Homo sapiens: one gene and its partners. The protein of the gene in region 1 purifies or fractionates together with the protein of each later gene. This does not show direct contact. Each region holds a gene or a part of one and is shown in the gene's direction. Other genes may lie near its edges.

Region 1 (3,756 bases):
ATTGTGGAAGTCAGTGTGGCAATTCCTCAGGGATCTAGAACTAGAAATACCATTTGACCCAGCAATCCCATTACTGGGTATATACCCAAAGGACTATAAATCATGCTGCTATAAAGACACATGCACACGTATGTTTATTGCGGCATTATTCACAATAGCAAAGACTTGGAACCAACCCAAATGTCCAACAATGATAGATTGGATTAAGAAAATGTGGCACATATACACCATGGAATACTATGCAGCCATAAAAAATGATGAGTTCATGTCCTTTGTGGGGACATGTATGAAATTGGAAACCATCATTCTCAGTAAACTATCACAAGAACAAAAAACCAAACACCACATATTCTCACTCATAGGTGGGAATTGAACAATGAGATCACATGGACACAGGAAGGGGAACATCACACTCTGGGGACTGTTGTGGGGTGGGGGGAGTGGGGAGGGATAGCATTGGGAGATATACCTAATGCTAGATGATGAGTTAGTGGGTGCAGCACACCAGCATGGCACATGTATACGTATGTAACTAACCTGCACAATGTGCACATGTACCCTAAAACTTAAAGTATAATAATAAAAAAAATTAAGAGAAAAAAAGAAAAAAAATGATATTCATTAATTTTTGATTTCTCAAGCAGACTTCGCAACTGGAGGAAGAATAAAATGACTAGACTAGGAGAATATGCAAACTATTAAGCTAGATTTCCCTTTGTAAATTAAAAAATTAGTACTTTAGTTTATCAATCCATTCTTTGTGGTGTTGGTTTCATGAATCATTTCAAAAACAATGGATCACTCCTGCTAGCTCTAGTCATTTTGTTATTCTCATAGGAAAAAAATTAAATATGAAAATGAATAGAAAAGATATATATAGAAGCCCAAGAAAAAAATGAGCTGACCTCACATGCACGACAGGAAGGGCCACATAAATGGACAATATACAGAGATTTAATTTACAAAACAAAATATAAAATCTGCCTCTCAGTGGTATGATTCTCAAAAGTTCTAACTTTTATACTCAGCATCATGTTTTAGCAACTATATCTTACAAAGTCTGACCGACTTAATCATATCAACTTTAATTTATGAGTCAATGAAGTATATTTCAGGAGGAAACATCAAATGATATTAAAATATTGATGGTTCATCTGCTCCTTTCCCTTATTATTTAGTTTTTCTTTCTTTTTTTAGCTAAACTAATGTAAAATTATATCTAATGACAGCAAGCTTTCCTTTCTTTCGACATAGTGAAAACTTGTATAATTATGAAATTTTTAAAAGGTTAAAGCCTTTGTTATTTATTTTAATTCAAATCCAGTATATTATTATACATATTCGGAGCCCAAACTATTCATCTTCATCTAAACCTTCAATTAAATTCCACAATGCAAACCTCTTGGCTCTAGAATCACGTTTCTTGTTTATTCAACTGAGCCTGTGTCTTGAAAAAGTGTTGAAGTTTGGGGGTTTTCTGGTGAGAATCCACGTTCTGACATCACCTTGGTCGTGACAGTGATTGGCTGTTGGAAGGCAAAGAAGAGTTTATAGCCAGCAAGAGCAAGTGAATGAGTGAGTGAGAGGGCAGAGGAAATACTCAATCTGTGCCACTCACTGCCTTGAGCCTGCTTCCTCACTCCAGGACTGCCAGAGGGTAAGATTTAATAGAACAACTTCATTATCATAAAATTAGACACTCCATAGTTTACATCTCTGAACTTGGCTTTGAATTTTTCATTTAAATGATGTTATTGCATTGTACATGGTTTAATAATTATTTATCATTAAACTGGCACTTCAGATTTTAAATTCTTTCCAAAAGGCTAAACTTATTAACCTAAGCATGTAAATAAGTTCTTAATACTATGCACATAAACTACATTATGCTTCTTACTTTCATTCTCTGCAAATCATAGCTTAACTGTTTGTTTTCTCATTCTGATGCATTCAAGATAACCTGATTGAAATACTATTTTGCATTTGCAAATCTGGCTAGATATATGCATATTTCTCTACAAATTATACCTAGTCTGTACTTCAAGTACATATGTTGTCTTTTCAACATATTAAACATTAGGTTTTGATGTTTCCTATAGCTCTAAAGTCAGAACAGAAAATATATTGTACTAACTAGAGAAATAAATACTCTTGGTAGTTTATCATACCCTTCCCAATAAAACTTGAAATTAAATCCTCAAAATTCTCCTTTAAGAATGTTTGAATTGTTGTCTGGGTTAGTAGTGGTCACTATAGAGGTCTTGGCTTTTTGTTGACTCACAAAGTAAATAAAATTAGATTTATATAGGCAGCCAATCCTGACTACAAGAACTACTTGGTTCTTTGTATTGTTATTATTATTATTTATGCCATCTTTTCATCTGGTTATTTTTATTGTTATGAGAAATTTGTGTAATCAAAACTATTTCTATAATTCTATGTATCTAAGCTTTTAGCTCTTTAAAATATTATAAATATTCCGACCCTTCTCACAAAGTGGCAAAGCAATAATCTTTCTGTTTTGCTGATGGGCTTGGTCACGGCTGGCAAAGTTCAAAGCATTATTTAGACCACCCCGATAGAAATCAGTGCTGCTTAAAAAGATGGGCTCCTTCAGGAGCAAAGCCTGTTTATTCCCAAGGGGCCATCAAGACCTTTTACTAAGATAGGACTGTGAGAAACTGTCTGGGCACCAAAACCCAAAGACTCACTCTGACACACAAAAAGAGTGTGACTTAGGACCCAAGACAGTATCTCCAGGACTTAGTGTCAGATACTCAGTAAGGATGCAATAAATCTTGGCTGATGATGACACAATACACAATTTACCAGCAGGTTTCAATATATGACATTGGTTTGCACATTTTAAGTATTATTTTCAAAATGTATTCATGGGAAATTGCCATCACCACTACATTTTGCTTCCAAAATATTGCCAAAGCTGTGACTGTGTATGAGAAGGTGCTAACAGTTAAATGTGTATGTAAATGTAAATGGCTGAGTGTTAGTAGGCTTTCAGCTAAGCTTGCCCAACTTCTATTATGATATAATTTTAAATACAATTTTATTAAATAGAATAAAATTAAGATAGGATAGCATTTCACTATCTCCTTTTACTCATGAGGAATTTATGTGGAACTGAGGCTCTTTTTATGGCTGCAATCCCCAAGATTATTCAGGCCCTATTCCCACTTTGAGAGCTGCATCTTCGATTGTTCCATAGAATTGAAATTTTCATCCATGTCTGTCACCCTAACCCTGGAGAGCCCCTAATCCATCCCAGTACAGTCTCATACACTAGCAGATGGAAAGCTTAAATGGAGCTGGAGAGCAAATTAATTTGAGGAAATCTGCCCCCGATATCTCAAGGCGAAACTCTGAAGAACTCCTCATGGAAGCATCCTTAGCGGAGTTGCTGTTGCGTGCTACATGATGTCAGTGTGATATTTCATATATTATGGATCCTCTCTGTCTCTCTGTCTCTGTCTCTCATCCACCCACCCATACACACACACACACACACACACACACACACACACGCATATACACACACACACACACCAATTATTCCAAGATGTTCAGAGGAAAATTGCTCCTACTTTCCATTTTACAAATAAATTTTTAGCCCAAAACCTATATAGAAGCTGGAAACCGCCTATAGGGTATCAGTGATTTTTGCTTTTTTGTTTTATTTTTGAGACAGGATCTCACTCTGTTGCCCAGGGTGGAGTACAGTGGTATGAACACGGCTCACTG
Region 2 (3,656 bases), on another chromosome or scaffold:
CTGTTTATATTTTTTATATGTTTATGTTTTTTAGACACCGAGTATGAAATGACATACGTGTTTGCCTCCACATTGCCCTTTTTCATTTTCCTTTGATTATATATATATTTTGCTGTATTATATTGATAAAGTCTAGAATTGTGTCTGGAAAGTAGTGTGAGATGTTATTCCACTTCAGTACTAGACTCTTCCCATCTCCTCAAGAACATGACTGTAGCAATTCTCCCCTTTCTCCATCCTCATCAGCCTGCACAAACATGCTTTTATTTCTCCTATTGTAAAAAATACTCCTCTTCACCTTGCTTTTCTATGTAATTCCTTCCCTTTATAACAGAACTCCTGGTGTTAGCTGTGCCTACTGCCTTCAATTTCTTATTCTGTCATGCATCCTCTCCACTCAAGGTTTTGCTGTCCCTGCCCTCAGCTACTCTCATTGAAGTTCTCATGACCTTTGCTTTGCCAAATTCAGAGGTCAGTTCTCAGTTCTCCTTACCCTTCATCTGTTTCACAGCATTTAACATAGCTCTTTCCTCCTCGAAACACTTTCATCACTTAGCCTCAAGGACGCTACACTTTTTGCCTCTTATCTGTTTTTGTTGTTGTTGTTGTTGTTGTTTTCGAGATGGAGTCTTGCACTTGTTGCCCAGGCTGGAGTGCAATAACGCTATCTCGGCTCACTGCAACCCCCGCCTCCTGGGTTCAAGCAATTCTCCTGTCTCCTGAGTAGCTGGGATTACAGGCTCCCGCCACCACACCTAGCTAATTTTTTGTATTTTTAGTAGAGATGGGGTTTCACCATGTTGGCCAGACTGGTCTCGAACTCCTGACCTTAGGTGATCCACCCGCCTCGGCCTCCCAAAGTGCTGGGATTACAGGCGTGAGCCACTGCGCCCAGCCGCCTCCTCTCTTTTTGACTACCCTCAATCCCTCATTGATCTCATCCAGTGTCAAGGCTTTAAATACCATCTTTATGCTGAGGATGTCCAAATTTATGCTTCACAGCCTTGGCCTCTTCGGTGAGTTCCATTCTAGTGCACCCAGCTGCTGACCCAGTGTCTCTATGTGCATATTTCATAGGCATCTTAAAATGTCCTGAATTCAACTCTTGGTCTCTGATTCCCCAAAACCTGTTTCAATCCTCCATCTTCCGCATTTCAGTGAATGGCAAATCTGTTCTTCCAGGTGCTCAGCCAGGAAATTTTAAGAAATGAGGGAGAAGATCCTATTGATCTCTGGAGGTTGGTAGACAATAAAGGAGGGGCAGTAGATTGTATAGTTTGGTCATATGAGAGTCAGAATTGCTTTTTATTAATTTATTATTAATTAATTAATTAATTATTTTTTGAGAGAGAGTCTCACTCAGTTGCCTAGGCTGGAGTGCAGTGGTGTGATCTTGGCTCACTGCAGCCTTTGCCTCCCAGGTTCAGGCGATTCTCCCGCCTCAGCCTCCTGAGTAGCTGGGATTACAGGCGTGCACCCTGACGCCTGGCTAATTTTTTTATATTTTTATTAGAAACGGGGTTTCACCATCTTGGCCAGGCTGGTCTCGAACTCCTAACTTCAAGTGATCTGGCTGCCTTGGCCTCCCAAAATGCTGGGATTATGGCGTGAGTTACCACACCCGACTTATTTATTTATTTTTTGAGACAGGGTTTTGTTCTGTTGCCCAGGCTGGAGTTCAGTGACACAATCACGGCTTACAGCAGCCTCGACCTCCTGGGCTCAAGCAATCCTGCCACCTCAGAACTCCCAAGTAAAATTGCTTTTTATGGTCTAGAAAAGGAGTGTGTAGTCTGGAAGGAGCAAAAGAATAAGAATATATGTTTTGTCTCCAGGCTCAGTGATACTGGAGTATGGGCTCCATACAAACAGATGTTCTCAGGAAGGTGAGGGAGTCCTCAGAGAAGAGGTTGAGGATAATGGGGATTTTGCTGATGATGGACTGTTAGTGTTTTGGGGCTCGGATGTTTGGGAGATGGAACAGAATAAGGTGTAGGGATTACTGTGTAAGAAGTGAAGCCTGGCTCTGGATCTCAGGGCTTCCTGTGGTGAGTGATATAATAGGTTTAAATAGGTAGGTAATGGTGATGGGGTTTGAGAACTGGGGGTTTCTGGAGGAATGGGATGTCAGTGGGAGTGTCTTGCAGATGAAGGTTAGGAAGGCTGGGTGGCTGGGTCTTTACTTACCCTGCCCCTGATAGCTGCACAACTTGTACCTTCTCCATCCCTTGGTCCTTAATTTTACCTTCTAAATGAGGATGCTGTCCACCTTGTCTAAAGTTACAACCTCCTTTTCCCACGTGGCTTTTATTTTTCCCCTTTGCACTTATTGCTATTTAACATACTGTATAATGTGTGTGTGCGTGTGTGTGTGTGTCTTCCCCACTAGACTGTGATTTATGAACTGCTATGTACCCAGGGGCAAAAACAATATCTGGCACAGAGTAAGAACCCAATAAATGTTAGTTGAGTAAAATCAGACACAGACAGAGGCAAGGCTTATCTTCTCTGTTATGTCCTGTTTAAGTATATCTATCACACAGTGCAAAGTTACAGTAGGAATTTGGTTAATTTTAAAGTCTGATAATTCATACAGAGTTATGGCATGAGCCAATGTAATTTTCATTGGCTTATGCCATAAGAATTACATTTCTCCTACCTGCCAGACATGGTGCTTGGCAGTAGTGAATATATAGATATCTTCAAGGAACTTCACGGATTAGTAATGAACATGAAAGCAAAATGCCACTAATAATGAGATGAGTGCTAGAAGAGTGATGTCACTATTTTACCTCTAGGAATACAGATGAGGGGCTATCTGGTGGGTGAGGTGTTAGTAGGGAGACGAGAGAGGAAGGGACAGGTGAAACTGCCAGGTAAAGCCAGGAGTGCTGGTGTTGACTTTTGTGCTAGAACTAGGGAGAAAACAGGTTCACCAACTGGGCAAAGAAGCAATGTTAAACTAGGGCCAGAAGCAAGAAAGTGCTTAGTGTGGGTAATATCTGATAGTGGCTTTTTTTTTTTAAGTGAATAACTTAAAAGGTATTTTATCTTCCATTGTTTAGTTCAGCTAATCTAGCACTTGTATAAAATCATTAGTAATTGAATGGTTAAGTCAAGAAGGATCTTACGTTTTTGATCTACTCAATTTGGTTATTTTTAAGACTTAGAAAAATGTAGCTCAATGCCCAATTGCTTTGCTAGTTAAGGTCTTTTGTATATGAAATATTGAGGACATTTTTATGCTGGGTTGAGGTTTGGGCTCATTTTTGGTAGGACATCTAATGGCTTTACCTAATACATTTTGTTGGCTATTTTTGTCTACAGGTGTTGGAAATCAATAGCTCTTCTAGCCTTTGCATTGTTTAAATATAATAGTGTCATTGGACTAAGATGTTCCTGATGCCAACCTCTTCAGAGTTAAACAGTGGGCAGAACTTCCTAACCCAGTGGATGACCAATCCTTCTCGGGCTGGGGTCATATTAAATCGTGGATTTCCTATTTTGGAAGCAGACAAAGAGAAGCGAGCAGCTGTGGACATTTCTACCAGCTTTCCTATTAAAGGCACACATTTTTCTGATAGCTTCAGCTTTATAAATGAAGAAGATTCACTTCTTGAAGAACAGAAGTTGGAGTCAAACAACCCTTACAAACC
Region 3 (3,656 bases), about 11 Mb from region 1:
ATGAGCCACCGTGCCTGGCTTAGATGGCATTTTAATATTGATGGAATTAGACTCTTTGTTAATAAGATATCTTAAAGGAACTACCTATCAAATGAGGAAGCATGAGCCCAAGTGTTAGAGGCTGCAGATAATTGACTGATTGTGATGCTAGCTGTGAATGATAGCCGAAATTTAACTATGACACTATTTTTATTAGAATTGCTACTGCTTTAGTTAGGGTATCTGTTCATAAAGTTCCATAGGTTTTGAGGCCAACCCTGTTTTTCAAATATAAAGCCTGTTATTTTTATTATATGTAGAATGTGTGAGGTTTTTCAGGAATGTATGTGTTGTGCTAGAACCAAAATATCTATATTGTGATGTTACAGGTTGATTGAAATATGTGGTTTAAAAATACTCAATGTGCTCTCTAGATACATTATAATGGTATAATAGTATATAATATATAGTATAATAGTAATCTATATTCTTAAACATGGGGACAAAGAGAAGAATGAATATTCACAAATAAGAGAAAAGCAAATGAGTTTTAAAAAAACAGGTGTAGAGCAGTGTAAATTTTTCTGTTATTCCCTAGCAGGAGTAAGGAACTTGTAAAAGATAAGTGAAAATGGTATTTTGTAGCAATGTAGCAAAGTTTTCAATTTAATGTTACTAACTCTGGTAATTTATTTTGCATGATTGTGTCCCACATACATTTTTCTTTTGCCACAAGTGATACAATTACTATAAGAGTATAAAAACCCACTATCTGGCTTATGTTACATGGCCATATTCCTGCTCTCCACAGTGAGTTCAGTTACATCTCAGGGAGCTTCTGTTGGGCAATAACTATCTATCCATTGGTGTCTAATTTGAGAATGCAGAAGTTGTCTTTTTCATTAAGTTGCTAGATGCTGTCATGTTGGAAAAACACTTGAATTTTGAAATGAAAATAAGTATGGTCTTTATATTTGCACATTCTCTTGCAGTGGATATCACTCTTTATCGCAATGGTTATCATGGGGACCTGAATGAGACATTTTTTGTTGGAGAAGTGGATGATGGAGCACGGAAACTTGTTCAGACCACATATGAGTGCCTGATGCAAGCCATTGATGCAGGTCAGCCTCAGTGTTGAGCACCTATTGGCAGTCCTGTGTGTTGATGGGCCAAGAATGACTGGGCGCTGCAGTTCTGTGCATTCCTTGTACCTTCCAGGTTGCCCCTGTTCTACCTGAGTTAGCTTTGGTTGTTAGCAGTAATGGGTAAAAGGATGATCTGGGAATCTCTTGGTGGTGATAGACCAGATGATTGGTTAGCATCCTTTGTTTCTTCTGTGATTTATCTTCCTTTTCTTTGCCTGATAAATGAAGAGGACTGTGCAGATGGTTTTTTAGTGCAACTTTTATTCTATTTTTAAAATTCTTTCCAGTACATAAATATTATGTTCTCCTCATAAAAAATTAAAAGTGAAGATTATGAGTGAAAAATGTGTGATCCTCCTTTACACTTGCCTCCCCTCTTATCTCTCTCTTCTCTCTAGAGATATCCCATTACCGTTTAGGTTTTTTCTCTCTCCTGTGCATTAATGCACACACGTATGTGTATGTGTTAAATTAAGTTAAATGGAATCATAATATTTTTAATGTGTAACTGGGCTGTTTTTTCAACTATCATAGAGATCTTTTCAAGTTAGCATATATACCTACAGACATAGATTTACCTCATTCTTTTAATGGCTATGTATTATATTCTATAGTATTACAATTTGTGTAACTATTCTGTTGGATTTTGGTGCTTTCCAGATTTCTTACTATTGTAGTAATGGGTAGGGGTGTATTTCTGGAGGATTTTTCTCAGGCTGTCTGTCTTTGTACATATGAACAACTTATCGAGGCTTTTTTGTTTAATCAGTATCTTATGGGGATAAGAGAAGGAAAGGGGCTGGGCATGGTGGCTCACTCCTGTAATCCCAGCACCTTGGGAGGCTGAGGTTGGCAGATCACTTGAGGTCAAGAGTTCGAGACCAGCCCGGCCAACATGGTGAAACCCTGTCTCTAATAAAAATACAAAAATTAGCCAGGTGTGGTGGCGGGCGCCTGTAATCCCAGCTACTCGGGAGGCTGAGGCAGGAGAGTTGCTGGAACCTGGGAAGTGGATTGTGCCACCGCATTCCAGCTTGGGCAACAGAGCGAGACTCCATTTCAAAAAAAGAAGAAAAGAAAAAAAAGAAAGGAAAGTTCTTAACAGCATCTTGTTGGAGTTGTTAACAAACTGTTAATAAATGGGCAAACAGCCTTCTGGTTAAATCCTTACCATATCAACTTTATTACCAGTGTGCTACCTGCAATCCTCCCCAGTCTCTCCAAATCTTGATGTCATCAACAGAATAGTGAACAGGACAGAGTTCTTAGACAAACATACAGTTATCTCTAATAATGTTGATCCAGTATTTTTATTGTTTTTAGTGCGTTCTTTAATGTGTATGGGAGATGAAATTTTTACTCAAGTTGGAGGAATGGAAATGAAGGAATATGATATTTTTGTGTATCAGGTGAAATTTTGAAAACTTATTACTCATTGTTGATTATTTTAAAACATTAATACAGGAGGTGGAATTGAAGAAATTTAATGTTTAATTTGTCATTTGTGAAAGCTTAAGTTTGAAATAATTTTTAGAGTTTCTGCCAGATAATATAGTCAATATTTCTATTCTTTTTGCTTCTCTGTGAATCAACTGAAGAAACAAAAAAAAAAAAAAAAAAAAAAGAAAAAGAAAAAACCAGATAGTTAGAATGCTGTTTTATATGACGTATGACTGGAACTTGCCAATAGTTTTCATAACAGTAGCCAGGAAGGAACGAAAGTGGCTTGATCTTTTTTGGAAAGTGCTTTGAATTCCTTTGTATATATCATTTTTGCCCCTCATTTTGCACCTCCCTTACTCCCCCAGGTAGAGGGTTTGAAAAGCTGTTGAAATTAGGCTTCTTAAGTAGGGTTTCTTAGTCTATGCACTTAGTGGCTTTTGGGCCTGATAATTTTTTGTTGTAGAGACCTGTTCTATACACATAAGATGTTCCACAAGCATTCCTGGTCTCTACCCAGTAAATGCCAGTTACACCACCACCCTGTGTTTGACAACCAGAAATATTAATATCTCTAGATACTACCCTTGGGGCCGCAGTTGGAGCAGTTTGAAAATTAGGGAAGACTTCCTCTGTCACTCTTTCTATGCAACATGGATTACAATATTGTTCCCCCTCCCACCCCAGGCTGATAGGAAGGCCTGGATAGGAATGAAAGAAAGTAATTATGAAAGTCAGCATGATTTTTCAAAACCAGAAACCTCCTTCCTTCTCCCCCCAAAATCAAGCTGCAAAATACAGTTAAGAGCAAGTAAAAATGTTAATTAAACTGATTCCTTGAGCTATTTACCCTGAAATGGATGGGAAAGATACATTGTATCTGAACCTCAGTCTGGGAATCAGATAGGCTGAGTAGGAGAGTAGAGAGAGTTAAGGATCCCCAGAGCCATCTTGAGGTTCTCTAGGAGTCTGACAGTGCCCAGCTCCTGGGTCTTAGTGTGAGGGAGAACCTTATAGTGATGAGAACCACTTTTTTTGTTTTGTGTTTTATTGAAACACTAGTAAAAGTCATAAAAACTAAACAGAGCA

What was found.
Region 2: the proteins of IBSP (region 1) and CPAP purify together in Homo sapiens (affinity purification with mass spectrometry; one large-scale study listed by BioGRID and IntAct). This does not show direct contact.
Region 3: the proteins of IBSP (region 1) and METAP1 purify together in Homo sapiens (affinity purification with mass spectrometry; one large-scale study listed by BioGRID and IntAct). This does not show direct contact.

The regions. Positions count from the first base shown.
Region 1 is NC_000004.12:87,797,977-87,801,732, forward strand, and holds the start of IBSP (integrin-binding sialoprotein precursor), read left to right. Parts: upstream 1-1,577; 5' UTR 1,578-1,657; intron 1,658-3,756. UniProt on the Homo sapiens protein: Binds tightly to hydroxyapatite. Appears to form an integral part of the mineralized matrix. Probably important to cell-matrix interaction. Promotes adhesion and migration of various cells via the alpha-V/beta-3 integrin receptor (ITGAV:ITGB3).
Region 2 is NC_000013.11:24,912,763-24,916,418, reverse strand, and holds part of CPAP (centrosomal P4.1-associated protein), read left to right. Parts: intron 1-3,327; 5' UTR 3,328-3,393; coding exon 3,394-3,656. UniProt on the Homo sapiens protein: Plays an important role in cell division and centrosome function by participating in centriole duplication. Inhibits microtubule nucleation from the centrosome. Involved in the regulation of slow processive growth of centriolar microtubules.
Region 3 is NC_000004.12:99,044,208-99,047,863, forward strand, and holds part of METAP1 (methionine aminopeptidase 1), read left to right. Parts: intron 1-971; coding exon 972-1,103; intron 1,104-3,656. UniProt on the Homo sapiens protein: Cotranslationally removes the N-terminal methionine from nascent proteins. The N-terminal methionine is often cleaved when the second residue in the primary sequence is small and uncharged (Met-Ala-, Cys, Gly, Pro, Ser, Thr, or Val).